Regions from separate parts of the Homo sapiens genome. Here region 1 is linked to region 2. The links come from fine-mapping of genetic effects on gene expression. Tissue or cell type: liver. Region 2 holds a variant in brackets; the other region holds the start of a gene. All regions are shown on one strand. Distances are from middle to middle.

The links. PIP is the estimated chance that this variant, and not a neighbour inherited with it, causes the effect.
Region 1: LRATD1 starts here. The variant in region 2 is fine-mapped to the expression of LRATD1 in liver (GTEx, PIP 0.96).

Annotation. Positions count from the first base shown.
Region 1 is chr2:14,627,860-14,638,066 of GRCh38, reverse strand. LRATD1 (LRAT domain containing 1) reads right to left here and starts at 5,350. Exons shown (of 2, transcript NM_145175.4): 1 at 5,130-5,350; 2 at 1-4,123. The coding sequence starts at 4,087. The coding sequence ends at 3,209.
Region 2 is chr2:14,572,926-14,583,132 of GRCh38, reverse strand. No RefSeq gene overlaps it. Among named protein-coding and RNA genes, the nearest start is that of LRATD1, 55 kb to the left of the region's middle. The variant C/T (reference allele first, on the strand shown) is at 4,866.

The DNA of each region.
Region 1 (10,207 bases), 55 kb before region 2:
TTTTTTTAAATCATAGTTTGTTTTACCTGAAAGTTGAGAAAGAATGCAGTATAAATATAGCTTTTCTCTACACGGGAGCAGGGGGAACAGAACCAATCCCCAGCTTAGCCACACCCAACATCATGGAAATTACTGTGAACCTGTTGTCTCTTGAGGACAACTAAAACCAAAACGAAATCCCTAACATTATTAAAATGTTAGGAAACTTTTCAGGTAATTGCTGTAACTCTGGTAAAATACAGAAAGATTACATTCACTCATAATAAAAATCAAGTGTGCCCACGCCATCTGCAAAGGGAACTTGCACCATCTTGGTTTCACTCGCATTGTTAACAGTGCCCTAAAAGTATACACCTTTTTCAGGATAAAACCATTAGGTAATATCTTGATCATATCCTCTGCATGATGAACTATCACTCAAATTATTCTGTCATGGGTTACCTTACTAACACTGACAAAGAGATAATAAATGATAATTTTAACAGGGATAGGAGAAACCTTGCAAACCTTTCAAGTTTCTTTCATAACTATTGTTTTATTATTGCATATTTTTAGAGGTATTATCATCAACCTGATCCTTTATAGGCCAATATAGTAACAAATGCTAATTTAACTGCCCAGCTCATTTTTATTGTCAGTCTAGCCTCAGCAAGTATAAAACTGACAAGACATTCCTCTATGAGAGTGACCCTCTTAGTGAGAGAGAAATCTATGTACCATCAGAGGAAATAAATCTTAGTATTCGGTGTGATAGAGACTAATTCATTTCTTTTGATGAAGTCCCACTCTTTGAGTGACTTTGAAGGGGGAGACAAAATGTCAAGAAGGAGTCCTGCAGGAACAAGTGCTTAAGATGGTGTTTAATACAGCAGGGAGCCAAGATACAGTAGTAGGACACAGTAAAGAATGTGGAGTGTGTAGATACAATAAAGAATTCATTTTATGATCTGCCACCTGTTACTTGAAAGAGGAGTAAGTTAGGGAAATAAATGACTCAGTTCTTCATACATGCAAAGGTAAGTTAGTTATTACAAAAGTTTTTGCTGTTGTTTGTGCTGAAAGAAAAGCATATGCATTTAAACATTTTTTAAAAAATAAATCACTCAATAGGCTTAAGAAAAATACTTTAGTTCATAGTTCATTGATCTGACGTTTTGATTTAAGATCAGGGGATGAATCCAGGATGAAAACCAAAGAAAAAAAAAGAAAAAGAAAGAAAAATATAGAAGTGAATCATTTACCATGAAAAAGGCATTTCCAGCCTCAGCTAACCTCAACTAGTTTTTATTGCATTATTTTTGAAATGCCAAGAAACTGGCTTTGGCCATAATACTTGCTGTCCAACAAAATCACAGCTGTTAATATGCAATTGCTTGCAACAATTAGCTAAACAGCATTATTTGACAAATTCCCTTGAAAGAGACATAGATGCTATTTAAGTGTCTAGCACACTGAATCAAGTAACTATCAGTTAGGCTGGGGCCGCAGCTGGAGGGAGGAGAGAAGTTTACAAATCCTTGTCCACAGAAGGTGTTTCACACCCAGCCTTAAGTTTTTGAAAAACACACATTTGTCCTGATCCTACAAGTTCATCATCCCTGTTTTCAGGAAGAACTGAACTGTGGAACTGGCCAAAGAGGAGGGGGAAAAAGCCACCAACTCTAGATTCATTTTTAAGGAGATCAGGAGGAGAGGAAGAAAAATAGAAACGCGTATGTGAAATGGTAATGATATACAACATGGAGAAAAAAATAAACATCGTGGAACCTGCTAGCAATTTCCACCAATTTCCACCAAAGCAGTGAACCCCTTAACTGACAGAAATTCAGTACAATATACACATTAATTAACAACTCCACCATTACTAGGGCTGCTGTTGAAAGCCAAAAAATTAACTACAATATTGAAAAACAGAATGCTTACAATATCTGAGAAAAATAGAGTGAAAAGGCAATGTTAGCTAAGCTCTTAGCTACATCCACTCTTAATGGCCCCCAGTATTTAAACTATCATGGATTAAAGCCATGAAAATAAAAATTTCAATTTGAAATTTTATTAGCCTGTTGCTAAAATGGTCAATAAAAACATCAACACGATAGGCTTTGTTGACATAGTTGGAAAACTGCTCTCTCATTTTTAAAACTTTATTTCCACTTCCCCAGCTTTGAAGATTTCTATGTTAGGAAAAGCCAAACTAAATATACTGGCTATGGTGTTGTAACAATGCTGGTTTCTGGAATGGTGCCATGTCCTCCCCCTCCCTCTCCTCCAACTCCTTTAAAAATATGACTATTTTTGAAATGCAGCCCGAGGAGGGAGCAATCAAGGGTTCAGAACAATAAGCGCCCTTCACACATTCAAGTTCCCAGACACCAGGTGAACGAGCGAGCTCCTTGTCGGGGGCGGGGCCGGCTGTCCTCACCGAATTCGCAGCGCCATCTTCCTCCCGGGACCGGGCCGGCTTCCCTTCTGCCAGCGAGGGAGACTCGCAGGCAAAGGCGGGTGGGGGTGGCGTTCGCTTCCCACGGTGGAAAGAACCGGAGGCAAACACTGTCTGGCTTAGCCCGCAGCCTGGAACACAATGTCAGGAGACCTGGGGCTGGAGAGCTGGAAAAGTCCCGGGCAGCCTCAGGATAACCCGGAATCCCGAAGTGCTGTCTTGGGGAATTATTCCCAAGTGCACAAGGGACAGGCTCGATTTCTTGGAAATCCTGCGATCTGGGGACGCATCCACAGAGGAGCTGAACTGTGCCCTGTAGAGACCAGTTCTCGCCTCCGACCGGTCTGTGTGCGCACGCTCGGGGCGGTGATGGTCCCTTTTGAGAAGAGGGTTGTTTTCGAGTCGGGCCACAGTCACTGGCCATGGACTCGCGGGGAAGGCCATGTCCTTTCTCCCCTCAGCCCCTTCCCCGTTCCCGGTTTACATCTCAAGGGGAAAGCGCACGCGGGGTCTCCCAGCACCGTCACCACCGCTGTGGCTGTCAGCCAGGCGCTCGCAGCGGCGCCCTTTCGGCCCTGGGGCAGTTCCTGAGACTTCCTGCCGCTGGCTTGGGGATGCGGGGGTGCAGCCCGGGCCCGGGCCACCGGCGGCGGACGCGCGTGGCGGGGCGGGGCAGAGGTTGAGAACCGCTGACTGCGAAGTCCGGGTGCGGGGAAGGGAAGGGAGCGAGGTGCGGGGGAGGCAGAGGGGCCGGCAGCCCCTAGGCGGCTACTCCTTGTCGTCCACGAGGTCGGCGAGCTCCTGGAGCACTCGCAGGCGGCCGCTGGCGTCGATACGGCGCTTCTCGCGGATGAGGTCTTCCAGGCTGTGAAACCTGGCGGTGTGGACCTTGTTCTCTCCCAGGTGCACCTTGAGATAGTACTGCTGCTGCGGGGGCTGCGTGCCTGCCGGCACCTCCCCTCCCGCCTTGAACTCCCGCTTGCCAAAGCGGCACCAGGCGGCGAAGCTCTCCGAGTTCGTCCAGCAGATCTCCTCGCTCTTGAGGCCCAGGTGGCCGCAGGCGTTCTGCACCACCAGCTCGGCCACCAGCGGGCGGTAGCGGTACCAGCTATTCACCACCCGGCCCACGTTGGCCGCGCCCGCCTCATACAGGCTGTCCTGGCGGATCTCGCCTTGGTGCAGGTGGATGATCTGCCCGCCGCCCACGTAGACGGCCCAGTGCGGGGCGGGCGCGGGCGGCTCCGGCGCGGGCTGCAGCCACAGCAGCTCCAGCAGGTCGCCGGGTTCGCAGAGCGCTGGCAGCGCGGTGACCGCGTAGACGCTTAGGTCGGCGCCCTGAGGGCCACCGCTCACTTTGGAAAAGATGCATTCCTGGCCCCGAAAGGCGGAAAACTGAGTCTCGTTGAGGACCAGCTGGTGCAGCAGGTGGTGGTGGTGGCGGCTGGGGCTCTCCGGGCAGGGGGTGCAACCCGGGGGGGCCTTCACGCCAAACTTGTCGGGCTGCCCGCGTTCGTCCAGGTCTTCCTCATCATCCGAGAAGAAGTAGGCAACCCCGACCCGCAGTTCGTCCTTTTCAATCCCCGACGGGTCCCCTGTGGGCAACTCGCTGTAGTTGAGGTGGGTGATGCGGTCCAGTTGGTTGCCCATCAATGAGGTGGCGAGGCGAGGGCCAGGAGCGGGGATCTGCGGAGGCACAGAGAGGCAGAGACACCGTCAGAGTCCGGGCTGCCCCTTTCGGTGTCCCTCCCCAAGACGTGCAGTGCCCCTGGGACCTGCCGGCTAGCTTACGTGCCCTCACCGGAGTCACCCTTTCCAGCCGAGTCCTCCGTGCCTCCCCAGGGGTACGAGGGGCGGAGAAGCCGCCACAGGTCAGGCGAGAGCAGACGCCACCACACAGCCTCCGACCCCTTCCGGGAACTCGGTCCAACTCCCAGAAGAAAACACCCAGGCTGGCTGGAGAGCTTGCGGGGTCCCGGTGGGGAGGAGAGTGCTGGCTGTGGCAGTGTGGGAGACGGACACCCAGGAAGGACCGAGGGGTGGGCTGAAAGGGAGAAGGGAGCCTAAGGCCAGTGAGCTGGGAGCAAGCTCCCATTTCTGTCCCCACCCTCTCCAGCCCACCTCCCAGTTTTGCACTAGGTTGCCTTCCTCCCCTTACAGCGGCTCGCACAATGACAATCAGACACATTCTCAGGCATTCACTTGACACCAGCAACATTTTGGACACTTGGGAGTCCAGACACTGGCAGCCTGGTATACTGGTGTATGTCACATACACCCACAATGACAAACCTTCGCGACGACACACTGGCACACTTAGACCCCACACATTCGTACACAATTTCAGCTCCACGCTTGCACGCTCGCCGTTGCACGTACGCCCAAGCACCCGGGCACACCTGCCCTCACAGGCAGGTGCACTCTGCCCCTTACTTCTCTTGCCTTGTCCCCATCAGGGCCAATGGGACTGCGCCAGGGCGAGGCTGCTCTGTCTAAAATAACCTAACAAAGAGGCAGGGGAAGGATGGAGAAAGCCAGTGCAGTGTATGTGTGTGGGTGTGGGTGGGAGCGTGTGTGTGTAGAGAGGTTCACTTTTAGCCCAAAGACCCCTCTCCCTCCTACCCAGCACAGGATCCAAACAATCGGATGAAGAAAAACCGTTTCCAAGGCAAAGAAAGCCGCTTCTCCCTACCCGTGATTTCCCTGCTCCCGAAACCCCAAACTCCTTTAAAGTCTCCTGGTCCCCATGGGTGCTGAGGAAGCGGCGGTGGCGAGTGGGTCCTGGGCTGCGCGTGGGGCTGCGGCTCCGCTCTACCCCGAGCCGAATCGTGCGGTGCGGCGCCCGTGCGCCTCCAGGTCTGCGCTGGCCGGGGCGCCTGCTCCCACTGGACAGTCCCGGCTCGGCTCTGCTTTCCCACCGCCGCGCCGACGACTCTAAGTAGCCGGAGCAGCCGGTCCCAGGGCCCGCCCCAGGACGCGCTCATTGGTTGGGGCGGGTGCTCGAGCTGTGTCAATCTTCGCCGGCGGGGGAGGGGAGCAGAGGCGGGCCTCCTGTGCGCTTTGCTCTGCTCCGCTCCGCCCCGCCCCGTACCCCGCACACCCGACCGCGCGCCGCCCCGGGGAGCGGAGGTGTGCGCACCCGCGGGGGGCGCGGCGCTTTCTGCCAGGTGCCGATGCCCGCTTGCGCCCGCGCCCCCCAGCTCATCCGAGCTGATTGTGACTGAGAACACAGCCCGCCCGCGTTCCGTGTTCCAGGAAGACAGACTCCAGCGGGGAAGCTGAGTCTGGGTATGGAGAAGAAACCCCAGGGCACCCCAGTATGGCCCAGGCACTGCGAGCGGCCCGGGGCAGGCAGCGACATTGCCCGAGGCGGGCGTCTGGGCCCTGCTGGGATCCCCCAGAGCCTTGGTTCCCGATGGCCCCTAGGCTGGTCCTTGGATCGAAGACCCTTTTCGTTCCCCAGACGTCTTTGAAATTGCTCCTGCGACGTTTGGCTCCTCTTCTTTGACTGGAGTGAGGCTGCTGACCCAGAGCTGATGCCCGATTTAAAAGGAGCTTGGTGTCAAATGCCACCCAAAAGCCTGAGCTTTGGCCGGTGCATTCCCTGGCTGTGCCTATGATATTGGCCTCCAATTTTCTGAATATAGGAGGAGTACCTCACAACTCATGTATGTGAGTTCATACATGCAAGCAGAGAGTAGGATGTAAAAGTGTTTTCCAAGCCTCAGAATTGGGATTGCTAAGCAAGTTTTGTTTGGTTTTGTGGGAAAGGAGGCTCCAGCAGTAGTTAATGATTACATTTCTGGATGGAAAGTTAATGAATGAATGTGTTCTGAATATTGGATGCTGAAAAAATGAACTTCATATATACAACATTCCAGACCAATAGTTTCAAAAGTTCCTAACATTAAGCCTCAAAGAGTTCTTAGACATCTGGTTCTGGCCCCAATGCTACTCATCTTTAAGCCTGGGCTCCAGCAGCTTTTCTATGAAGCCTCTTTTCTTTCCCAATGAGGAATTTGATACTTCCTATTTGAACCCCCCACCTCTTCCCTACAAAGCGAATTCCTTGAGAATAGACTTTGCATTCTGCACAACCTTGTATTCTGGGCCTCTTTCCCAATGCTAGTCATGCAGTGTGTTCCATCAGTAATAGTAAAAATGAAAACAGCCTGTATTGACCACTTATACGTGGTCAGACACTTAAGAGTAAATTAAGTAGACAATTTAATCATTATTCCTCTGTAGGGTACTCACTAATATCCGAATTGTAACAAACAGGGAAACAAAAGCTCCAATACTAGTACCAGCAATCCATCCAAGCCTACGGGATACCAGATCCAGTCTTTCACTAAGTTATAGTGTTTATTGAATAAAATCTTGTTTCATAAAATGAGAAAACTGGTGTTTCAGAGAAGTTAGATGATTGGCTCAAGGTTACATGGAGACTGATCCATATTACAACCCCCTTTTTCTTTGCTAGACTTTTCTGCTTGAATATCTTCAAACCGCCAAGCCTCCAGTTTATGTTTGCTTTCTGAAGGTCTCTGTACACCCCCACAGCCTCCAAATGCAGTGATTTATCAAATTAGATGCTAAAATATTGCTGGAAAAAATGGTTTTAAATGACCATCGGTATACAATTGATGTACCTAAATCTTTTTGGAAATTTGGCTATTGTCCATGTGCATGCAAGTTATCAGAAAACAAGTTGCCATTCGTGGAACTGACCACAGGTTGAGATGGCCTTTTTTATACTTGCCATAAGTAATAAACAACTCATTTTGGCCCTGAAGTCAAGAGAATTGAACAAGTAGCTTTAGAGATAAGGAGTGAGTTATTGGTCTTGTTATAAACTGGACTTCAGGGCTGTCTGGGATGAGGGTATCTGAAGAGTTCATTGTTGATGTCTGAGAAGAACTCTTTGAAAGCAACTCAGCGTTTGAATAACTTAAAAAATATCCTCCCTCCATCCCCAAGATCAAGCCTTGTGCACAGACATTTACAACTCATTTGTTGTGTTCTGCCCTACGTGTTCTATTTCATTCTGCTCCAGACTACAGAGTAAGCAGGTCGTTCCTCTTTGTTTAGTATTCCAATACTATAAAGCATAATTAAGATAAAATGTTGTCAGTTATTGGAGATATAGTGCCTAAAGTTTAAAATTTTTGGCCTCTCCGTTTCCTCTCATTCCCCCTGCTAGGCTAAACGGCTAACTGCTTTTGTAATCACATGGGAGAAAAAATACCCTGGAGCCCCCTTGAAACATAAGGCAGGGAACACATTGACTGTGAGGCTTGAAATAAAGGGAGCTAAAAGTAAACTAAGGAAAATACATCTACACTTTGTCTTCTTTTGGCACTTACCAGATAATAAAGTAAGACAATCAAATGAAGGATGCTGATTGTAGAAAATGTTTTATGTTCATCACAAAATATTGTTTTCAAATTGTTTTGACTTTTATTTTTTACTCCATCCTGCCTGCTTTTACAATGAGAAAATACAGTGCTGTCCAAAGTAGAATATAGTTGTCCAAAACACAAACTCTGAAAGCCAACTAATTTAAACTCTTTTTCAACATTTATTGCTGGGTAACCTCGAGTCCGTTATTTAAACTTTGTGGGCATCAGGAAACTTCCTTATCTGTAAAAAAGAGATAATAATAGTGGTTACCTCACTGAATTGTTGTGAGTTCATACATGTAAGCATAGTGTCTGACGCACAGTGAGTTTTCAATCAAGGCTATCTTATTATTATTCTTGGTGGAAGAGAGAGGTCTCATACCCTACTTGTTTAGGACAGCTGTGCAGTTCTCTTTCTCCTTTGCCCCAGGCTAAAGGTAGCAATAGATAGTGTCCAAGGCTTTCCCTGATTGGGGTGTAGGACTGCTTCTGTGTTAAGGTGGTGAGATCCCTGCCTATCCTTCAAATACTCTGAGACCTAAAGCTCTCTATAGATTTCAGCATGTGAGCCCCTGGGCTGATCATGTGGTAGCAGGGAGTGGGGTGGGGGTTCCCTGAAGGATTTTTAATTGTTTTAAATGAACATTTCCGGTGTGAGGAATTTGTGTGGGGAAAAAAGTTACAGGGGAGTGATTAGGAGTCAATCAAATGTATGTGATCTTTTCTGCTGGTGCCATCTGATGTATCCTCTCTCTCTCTTTTTTTTTTTTTGTTTTTGGTTGCTTCTTTGGCACTATTTGAAAAGCTTTACTCCAAATTTTACTGAACAGGTCCTTGGCTCAAACTGTCATCCTTTAAAATTGGCCTTGGAGCTTGGAGTAAGGGTTCAGGAAAATTATATGCCCCACTTTATCCTTTAATGAAATGAACTGTTCCATCTCCTGTCCTTCACTGCCTTAGGCAGTTAACATACTCACCCTGGTCTGAGCTAAAGAATACTCTGTGTCCATCTGGATTAGAGATGGTTATATGGCTTCACCAATCCCATTTCCCTTCCTTCTGGGCACCCAGCTAAATGACAAGTCCCAGCATGCCTGCAGTCATTTGCCCCATGCCCTGTGACTGAGTTCTGGCAAATGGAATGTGGGTGGAAGTAGAATAAGCCACTCCCAGGTGCCGCTCCTGAAAGCTCCTGAAACTGAAACTATTATTAACACAATCTTCCAGAGCTTTCTTTTGCCAATTTGGCCATTTGTAGAGGATTCATGGTAGGACTCCTAGGATCTAAGAGATGGAGGAGCCACTAGATGGAAGAAGGCCGGAGCTCCTGAATGACTGTGTAGAGCTGATAATTTCCCCTCCCAAGAAAACTGCATTGGACTGTGAAGAAATAAATCTTCTTGGGTTAAGCCACTCCAAAATTGTGTGGTTATTTATTATAGCAGTTAGCCTGTACTGACTGATATACTGTCCTTCATTTTAGACCTATCTCAGAACAATAAAAATCTCCCCCACTTCCCCCGTCCCCACACACACCTCCTACCTCCTTCTCTCTTTGTATCTGTTCTCACTGCCAAGGCTAACTTGCCTGAAATCCCTGCAGCATTTCAGCAGGTTCACATCACCTAGAATGTAAAGAAATCACTAATGAACACTTCTCTCCCCTCTAGGTACTACCCCATATCTCCCTACTATTTGTTCTAGAAATTTTCACAGCTTCCATGTGACTAACTTACCCAGCTCTCTGAACATCTTACCTGCTTTCTACTTTTGTAGACCACAACAATGGCGTGGGAAACCCCTCCCAGTAAACTTCTTGCAGCTGGTATCCTGCTTCCCTTAACCCGCATGCATGCATTGACACTCTGGCTATCAATTTCCTCTTCAGTGCCCATTTCCAAGTTTGGCTTCCACATTTCCATGTTCTCTAATTTCCTTCCCATAACTGAGTGTTCATATTAAAGTGTCTTTTGTGGCTTCTTATCAGCGAACCATTAAAGACTCATGAATGCTCCCTGGGTAAAACCTTTAGCACTAATTGGTTTAATATTTTATTTTTTTGTGGATTATACAAAGATATCTTCACCTAGCATTCATTTTTCTCTGTGTTCTCTCCCAATTTTAGGATAGTTCATGCCTTTTGTTTGGGCCCACTTCCCCATATGAGTGATGGTTGAACTTTCCTGGGTAGGCATGGGTCACTATTACAGACACACTGCTTACTCTTCTTTTTCTCTGGAATGTCTTTCCCTGCCTGTCTGATCTAACCTCCACTCAAAATTAATAACCCAGGTTATCAAGCGTCAGCCCCTCCAATATATCTGTCCCCTCAGCCCACTCTAATTGAGACCCTCCTTTATGCTTCCAT
Region 2 (10,207 bases):
AAGGCTTTTAATGTACAGAAAATTTCTTTTCATGTTTGAGAAGCTTTAAGCCCCAATTTCATTCTTCTGTATGTGGGTATCTAGTTTTCTCAGCACTATTTATGAAAGAGACTATTATTTTTCATTGCAAATACTTGGCTCCTTTGCCAAAAATTAATTGGCCATATATGTACGGGTTTATGTCTGAGCTCTCTATATTATTCCCTTGGTCAAGTTATCTATTATTATTATTAATGTTTTGGCCAGTACCATGGTATTTTAATTACTATTGCTTTGTAGTATTGCTTGAAATTAGGTAATGTGATACCTCCAGCTTTGTTCTTTTTGCTCTAGATTGCCTTGGCTATTCAGATATTTTTGTAGTTCCATATAAATTTCAGTTTTTTTTTCTCTTTCTGTGAAAAATAATGTTGGAATTTTGATGGAAATTGCATTGAATTTATAGATTGCTTTACATAGTATGGACATTTTCAAAACATTATTTTTTTCAATCCATGAACACAGGATATCTTTCCATTTATTTGTGTCTTCTACAATTTCTTTCATCAAAGTTTTATAGTTTTCAGTGTATAGGTCTTTCACCTCTTTGGTTAAATTTATTCCTAAGTATTTTAGTTTTTGTAGCTCTTCTAAATGCGATTGCTCTCTTGATTTCTTTTGCAAATCATTTGTTGTTAGTGTATAGAAATGCTAATGACTTTTGTGTGTTGATTTTGTATCCTGTGACTTTACTGTATTTGATTATTAGTTCTAAAACTTCTTTGGTGAGAGTTTGTATAGTTTTCTATATATAAAATCATGTCATCACCAAACGGTGACAATTTCACTACTTCCTTCCCTACTTGGATACCTTTATTTCTGTCTCTTGCCTAACTGCTCTGGCAAGTTCTTCCACTACTGTTAAATAGAAGTTGTGAGAGTAGGCATCCTTGTCTTGTTCCAGGTCTTAGAAGTAAGGGTTTCAGTTTTTCAATAATGAGTATAATGCTAGCTGTGGGCTTCTCACACATGGCCTTTATTGAGTTGAGGTACATTTCTTCTATATCTAATTTGGTGACAATTTTTAATTATGAAAGAATTTAGAATTTTTGTCAAAAGCTTTATCTGCATATAATCAGATATATGGTTTTTGCCCTTCGTTCTGTTAATTATTTCATACCATATACAAAAATCAAATCAAAATGTATGAAAGACGTAAACATAAGACCACAACTGTAAAGCTGCCAAAAGAAAACACAGGGGGGGAATTACATGACATTGTATGGGCAATGATTTTTTAGATTTGACCCCAGAAGCACAGGCAATAAAAACAAAAATAGACAAATGGGATTATGTTGAACTGTAAAGCTTCTGCATAGCAAAGGAAAGAAATCAACAGAGTAAAGAGACACCCTACTGAATGAGTGAATATATTTGCAAATCATACAAGTCCTAAGGAGCTAATTATCCAAAATATAATGTATAAGGAACTCAAACAATTCAATAGTAAGAAAACAACACAGTTTTAGAAATGGGCAAAGGACCTGAATAGATAATTTTAGAAGAAGCCATACAAATGGTTAACAGGTGTATGAAAAGGTGCTCCACATCACTAATTATTAGGGAAATACAAACTAAAACCACAATAAAATCTCACTTCATGCTGTTAGAATGGCTACTATCAAAAAGAAGAAATATAAGTATTGATGAGTATGTGGAGAAAAGGGATCCCTTGCATGCTGTTGGTGGGAATGTAAATTAACACAGCCATTACGGAAAACTGTGTGAAGGTTCCTGGAAAAACTAGAAATAGAATTGCCATATGATCCAGCAATCCCATTTCTGAATAGTTACCCAGAAGATATGAAATCAATTTGGCAAAGGGATATCTGCACTTCTATGTTCCTTGCAGGATTATTCACAATAGCCAAGTTATGGAATCAACCTATGTCCATCAACAGAAGAATGAATAAAAAAAAATATGCTATGTACGCAAACCGGAATACTATTTGGCCTTAAAAGAGAAGGAAATCCTGATGTTTGTGACAACATGGATGGAACTGGAAATGTTATGCTAAGTGAAATAAGCCAGGCACAGAAAGACAAATGCCACATTCTCACTTATATGTAGAATCTAAATCAATTGAACTCACAGAAGCAGAGAGTAGGACGGTGGTTACAGAGGCTGGAGGGTGGGGTAATGGGGGACATGATGGTCAAAGTGTATAAAAACTTAGGAGAAATACATTTTTGGGTTATGTTGCACAGCATAGTGAATATAGTTAATAATAGAGTATTGTATATTTCAAAATTTCTGAGAGTAAATTTCGAGTGTTTTCACCACAAACAATCTTAACTATTGGAGGTGCTGGATATGTTAACAAGCTTGTTTTAATTATGCCACATTGTATTCATAACTCATAGCATCACTTTGTACCCTATAAATTTATAAAATTATAAATTGTCAATTTATAATTCAAGCAAAACAAAACAAAAGCTTTGAGCTGCAGGGCTGCCTCCTACTTTACAGCCAGGATGAAACCCTTAGCACAGAGCATGCTGGGAGGATGGAGAAGAAAGACGGACACCGTCGTGCTTTCCCAGGGCCGATAGGGTCTTTATTGGGATGTAATTTTCTATAGCTTTTTATTAATTAATATAACAAATGTTTATTAAGCATTTGCTCTGTGTCAGAAATGTTTAGGATATAAAGGAGTGAACAAAATGAACAAATAGTGCTGTCTCCTGGAGCTCACATTTTAACAATTGTCTTAGTGTTTTATTTCTATTAATATTCCTGTTAGAAGTCTGTCTTTAGCACCAATTATCTGAATGCTGTCTCTATAATAGATATTTTTGGTCGCAGAACAATTGCTACTCTTTACTGGAGGCTTGTAACATTCCAGACACCATGCTAAGCGAGTCATACATTATTCAATTTAAACTACCCATCTTTGAGGCTGTTCTTATAATTTTTACTCTATATAACCAGTACATGGTAGATCTAGAATTTTAACATAGGTCTGTTTGACTCCTAAAGCTATTCTCTTTACCACAGTCTACGCTAGTGTATCTTAATAATTGTTGTCTTAGATCAGAGGTTAAAAAAAAAAACTAAAACATGAAATTGCTTTATTTTTGTAACAGATAAATTCAACATAAATTAGCTTTCAAATCAGAAGAAAGCTATCTGTTCTTTAAGTCCCATTGTGAGGTGGTAAATTAGAAGTGTAAACTTCAGGATGGACAATTATGTCTATTTCAACACTTGCCTAGCTTATCATACATGGATGTGTTACTGCTGAAAATTATACAGACAACCATTATCAGCAATTGTCTTCAGTTCTTTGTACTTGACCAAGAGTATACAGTAGATCATATTACATGGTTAAAATGATTGCCACTAATTTTTTTTTTTCTGGGACAGGGTCTTACTCTGTGATCCAGGCTGGAATGCAGTGGCATGAGCTCATCTTACTGCAACCTCCGTTTCCCTGACTCAAGTGATCCTCCCACCTCGGCCTTCCAAGTAAGCTGGGACTACAGGTGCCTGCCACCATGCCAGGCTAATTGTTGTATTTTTTGTAGAGGTGGGATCTCACTATGTTGCCTAGGCTGGTCTTGAACTCTTGGGCTCAAGTGATCTGCCCACCTCAACCTCCCAAAGTACTGAGATTACAGGTGTGAGTCACTGTGCCTGGACTTTTGCCAATAGATTTTAATAATTATTGTATTTATCTTCAAAGGAAAGTATGGGTTGTAGCTTAAGGAAGTATGTATTCAAAACATTGGCTCCATACATATACTCATTGGGGCAAAAGAGTTAATAGTGGCTGATATAAATGTATGAGTTTATGCAGCTTTTCCTCAACTCAGGTCTTTGATAATACATATAGTCTTTGACTTCCAGTCTTCTTGTAACTTTCAAATGCTTACCTGTTTTCATAACTCTGTTTCGTTCTCTTTCCCTCTGTCCTTCTTGGATACCCTTCCTTCTGCAAATATTCATTATGGCTGCTCCATGTAACTTCTACAGCATTAGAAGTTCAAAGCTGGGGCCAGGCTTTATGATTACAACTACACTAGCTGTGATTTCAGCATGATTTTGAAAACCACAATGAATTCTATATGGTTAGAGAAAGCAATGACTACCATAGATGGATGTGCAAGCAAGTCTGATACAATGGGGAAATTAGAAAATAATATCGGGTGATATTAATATTAGAAGATGCTAACTATTGAGAGATTATCATATTCCAGGCAATCTTGCTAAGTGGTTTGTATAAATCATCTCATTTAATCATCACAGCAGGCCTATGTAAAAAGTAATTGATTGCTGAGAGAGGTTCAATAACTTGCTCATGGTTTGCACTGCTTGCAGATAGCCAATCAGAATTAAAGTCCATGTAATTTTATTTCTAGAATTAGGATTCTTCTCTAGTATGTGATAGGCTCAAAGATGGTGAGGAAGCCTTCACAGAGGCAACACCGCTGTACTTAAGTAAAAATTTCTACTGACACTTCAATCCCATTTACATCACTTTACCATTTCGGGTGTAACTGGATAGCATCAAACATTCCTTATTTAATCATATTAACTAAGCCATATAGCATAAGTAATTATAATTAGTTATCTAATCAAACAGTTGTAATGACTGAACTTTACATATTCCATGTCTTAGCACCATTCAGATTTGTGCACATTTCACTACAGCCCTGTTAATTTTTTCTTCTCACTACCAAAGAATGCTTAGATTTGATTTAAAAATCATCTCTTGCTTCTTGTATTGTGCCTCAGATTCTAGGATTGTAACCAAAAAGCAAATATATGAGGTAAAATTTTATGATTTTTTCAATCAGGAAAATCATAGGTCATGAACAAAATG[C/T]ACAGGTATTTGAACAAAGTCTTTAGACATCTTGGTCTTTATCATGAAAGCTTTTATTATGAAGTCAATTAGAGACAATAATCTATTTGGCCTAACCACGTATACCCATCATGTGCCCAAAGCTGTGACTCATCTTCATTGTTCTTTTACATGAATTAAAAAAAGGTGCTGCTTCTGAATTGGTATTCAGCTAGGCAATGGGAAGAGGATTTGCTAGGGAGAAGCAGGCATTGCTTCACAGAGGTGGATGCAGCCCTGAGCCAGGACACAAACTTGGCAGGTGAAGAGAGGGATGAATTGCAGCCCATACTTGCCAACAGAACGGGAACATCTGTGAAGTAAACAACCATGCACATTGGTTCTGTCTGCCTGTCGCTATAGTGGAAATTACAGGTAGAACGCTGAATACCATGTATTCCTTTCTTATGGCCTTAAGACCATCTGTAAGGTCGGTAGTGAGGAAACTGACTGAGAGAAGCTGAGAGCACACAGCTATTAAGTGTGGGAGCTAGGATTTAGACTGAGGTCTGATTAATTCTAAAGTCTGGCTCATTCTCTCTGATACACAAATACCTTATTTCTGCTCTGAAAGAATTTCCAAACTTGTGGGTGGCATAATTAGCCCTGATGAACAAAAAGCAGCAAGTAGAATCCTGTTTCTTGTGCACATCAAACATTTTCTCATCTCTTTGCCTTTGTTTAATCTCTTTCTTCTACTAGGAGTTCCCTTTTCTTCTCATCTTCATGTATTAAAATCTTGCCTATTTTTAAAAATGTCAATAAAATACTACTCTCTCCATGAAGCTTTCCTTGATACCCTTTTTAACATGAAAATAATCTCCATCCTCAAAATCACCAAAGCACATTCCTTACCACTCTGATGGAACTGACCTTGTTGAAACTTTCATATGGCTATATGTGTACCTGCCTCTTTTTTTGCCCCTGTAATGGACCATAAATTCTTAGATGCTGATGTCATATAAAAACTTTTTATCACCACTTCTTGGCACAGTATAGGAGCTCAAGATTTTCGTAACTAAATAAATCAATGATTGTATAAACGATTGAATGAATAAACCAACAATAATTAAGACTTATTTTCAATAAAATGATGGGCGAACCACTAATGCTGCTGGAAATAATGGAAAAATCTTGATAAGAGAGTTTTGAAAATCTTAAATAAAGAGCTAACATGATGTTACCAGCTGAACTGAATCCCCCTCAAATTTGTGTGTTGAAGTCTTAATCCTCAGTACCTCGGAATTTAACTTTATTTGGAAACAGGACCACTGCAGATATAGCTAGTTGTTAAGAAACTAGAGAAAAGCAGTGCATTGCCTACAGAAGAACAACAATTAGAGCGGCAGTAGAGTTATCATCTGAAATCATGGAAGCCAAAAGAAAGTGGCACAAAGCATCAAGTGCTAAAAGAAAAGAACAATCAACTCTGGATTTTATATGCAGCAAAAATACCCTTCAGGAATGAAGGGAAAATGCAAGCCTCCTAAGATAAAGGAAAACTATGAAAATTTGTTGCTAACAGAAACATCCTTAAAAAAGACTACAGGTGGCTGGGTGCAGTGGCTGAGGCTTGTAATTCCAGCACTGAGGCTGAGGTGGGAGGATTGCTTGAGCCCAGAAGTTCAAGACCAGCCTGGGCAACATAGTGAGACCCATCTCTACAAGAAATAAACAAAATTAGTCAGGTGTGGTTGGTGCATGTCTGTAGTCCCAGCTACTCAGGAGGCTGAGATGGGAGGATCCCTGGAGCCTAGGAGGTCAAGGCTGCAGTGAGTCGAGATCTCACCACTGCACTCCAGCCTGGGCGACAGAGCGAGACTCTGTCTCAAAAATAAAATAAAATAACAGCATGGCTGAATCCCACATTCCACGCAGAACCTATCTCGCTCTTTATATCTTAGGGTTATTGGTAGGTTTAGGATTTTTCTGGTCATCTGATTCCCACACGACAGTTCTCCAGGTGGTCTTGAACCAACCCAGTTTCCCCTTTTCTTGTTTGTAGTTTTCAACAATAACTGTAGAATGTTCTGGGAATGCACATCCTGATATAAGCAGAAGCTGTCTGGAACAACCTGGGTTCTGTTACAGTCCCTCCCAGAAACAGGATGTCCTTCAAAGCTTTAGCACAGTGTGTCATGTTCCCTGGGGTATAAACCCTGGGGCACTTACAGAAGAGGCTACATCTGCCCTGGGCAGCTTTCCTGAGCCTTGTCCTGAAGCAAGCTTGCCCTGAATCCCGGTTTCTGTGGTCCCTTGCTACCTATTTGTAAGTAATAAACCTGCTTTCTATAACTTGGGTATTTGAGCATTCTGTCTCATCAGACTCTTGCTCCATATATGAATTGTGTTATTCCTCCAGAATAAAGAAGCAGTAGCTGCAGCGGATGTCTTATTTATTAAGCATTTTTTAGTTCCCGCTAAGACATCATACACAGCCCTTTGATACATGTCCCCTACTTCCCTCTCATTCTCTGTGTGGGGCATCCTGAATGGTATTTAGCATCTGTGTGGCCCTGGTCGTCTCTGAGCCTTTGCCTCTTTTCTTCTCTTTCCTTCCGGGGAACACCTTATTACCAATCTCTTTCCCAGTTAACACCTTCCAAAAGTCAGTTTTTAGGTTAATTCCTTCACAGAGGCATCCCTGATGCTCTGGATTATGTTAGATGTTCTTGGAATGTGCCTTCAAAGGATCATGTATTTCACTTACCATGGAAAACATCCCATTCATTGGAATAAGCTGCTGGCTCCCCAGGGGCAGGAGCAGTGTTATCTTTGCCACTGTCAACCTGTGTCAGGTACACTCTTCGTGCATCATAAAAATCAATAAACATCTGCCATAGAAATGAAAAACAAGTTTATGATTCTTTTCTGAGAGGTTCAGAGGAAGCTTCACTGTCCTCTGCCAATAGTGAATCAATGATCACCAATCACTGATGGACTGTATTTGGTCCCATATTGGATAATTTCTTTCTTTCTTTCTTTTTTTTTTTTTTTTGACGGAGTCTCGCCCTGACGCCCAGGCTGGAGTGCAGTGGCGCGATCTCGGCTCACTGCAAGCTCCGCCCCCCGGGTTCACGCCATTCTCCTGCCTCAGCCTCCCGAGTAGCTGGGACTACAGGCACCCGCCACCACGCCTGGCTAATTTTTTGTATTTTTAGTAGAGACGGGGTTTCACTGTGTTAGCCAGGATGGTCTCGATCTCCTGACTTTGTGATCCGCCCGCCTCGGCCTCCCAAAGGGCTGGGATTACAGGCGTGAGCCACCACGCCCGACCCATATTGGATACTTTCTAAGTCATTACCCATTTCTGCTGTACTAATATTCTTCTGTGCTAGGTAATTATTATTTTAAATTCAGGAGAAAAAAATGCAAGAAATGAAAAAACAACCTACTGTTTCTTAGTTTCCAAGAAAAATAAAAACAGAAGATTTAAGCCTCCCCTATTAGATTAAATCATTTTTCTAGGACATGCTAATTTAAGCTAGGTTGTAAAATATTCCAATTACTACATTTAGCAAAGCTATGTAGCATGAATTTTCTGTCACATTTTCCTAAAATGGGCTTCATTTATATCCTATTTTACTTTGCCTCATTTGATTTAATTGTTCTTAAAATATTCTACATTCTTCTACAAACTTATATCTTGAGGGCATTGCCCTCATGCATAACAAATTTGTTTTTTACAATCTTAAGGATAAAAGAACCTCAACCCCATTATTTCTTTCAAAAATCTTTGATGAGATATTTTAAAAATGTATTTTGTTACTTTTAAAATGCTATAATATCATAATACCATGCACTCTTTGAAACAATTTCCAAGTTATCTATGATTTTAAGGAGTTTTTATAAAATACTGAGAGTTTAAAATTCTTTAGATCACAAAATTATTTCAGATAACTCATGTAAGCTTCACAGCTACCTCAATCAATATGAGAGTGCTGTCACTTTTATCCACGTTTTACAGGGGACAGCATGGTAACATGTAGTTTTAATCCAAGATTCACATTTGTGATTTTCTTTGATATGTAGAACACATTAAAAATAACAACAATAAGTAAACTCTTCAGAAGATATAGTTCTGTTAAGCACATTTATGAATGAGAGATAAAAACTTCAGAGCATAGTAGCTGAGTCCTTACAGTGCAAATGTACTGAATACTTTTAGGTTCCTTTGCCATCAAATTAATCATTTGGCTAAAGTGGAAAAAATATGAGTCGATCTTCACATTTAAAGTTGCTCTTATCAACCTGCAAACAGAACATTCAGTTAAAAAAATCATTTTTAAAAGAGTCTATAATAAAAAAAGATAATTATGGGTTTGAAGCATCTCAAATTACAGAATTCCATAGAATTTTGGAGCAAAAAACACTCTTTCAAATCTGCTAGTATTCTGAACTTTGAAAGAATTACAGTATTCTAATGCTTTTTAGAAGTGCTGTAACCTGAGTTCCCAAGTACAATGACATATTTTGGTTCTGATGCATGAGGAAATTTTTATCAATTCTGAATAAATGAAAAAAAAGTCAAATTTTTATAAACTCAGTTATATTAAATTTAAAGAATTTAATGTTATCTAAGATTTTAATTGTTTCATGTTTTTAAAGTTCAAATAATATTTTCTCATTTTATTTGGAGAAATAAAAATTGACAATCCTATCTCAGCCTCCTCCTCCCCTTCTCTGAGTGTGTATGGGAAATTTTATTAGTCTGTGATACCAAATAATTTGAGTTCAGGAATTTTAGCCACTGCTGCTGCTGCTGGAAGTATAGATGGATTAGGTAAGGGCTAGAAGTGTTCAACAACTTGCTCTAGGTCTCGGCTTGGAGCATGGGTCCCCTGACTCCCAGGCCAGGTCTCTCCAGCTCGTTGTGCTGTCACAGAAACCACAAAATATCTGCTTTTCCCTTTTCTTTGCCAAATCCAAGAGTGAGAAGCTAAATTGCGCATTAAAATTCTACTCACCAATTCATGATAAAGCATTAAAAATTTAAATTCTATCCCTTTTGTCAAGCACCTTTCCTTTTATTAATTATCTAATCCCAACAGACTCGATTGATAACCCTTGTTACATGAATCTTCAGCTTATTGATAACATCCATCTGGGTACTATCGTGCATATGAAGGCAAGTGTATTTAAAAATTATTAGAGCATTTAAAATTAGGGTAAATAAAACTAGCCCAGTCTCAGCAGAATTGTGAGAAAATCATGAGGGGAGAAAATTACTTTCAATGGTAATGTTAAGAAGATTCACTCCAGCACTGAGCCTACAGAAGATAACATCTTAAATACAAATTTCATTCTCTGATGACAGAGAAACT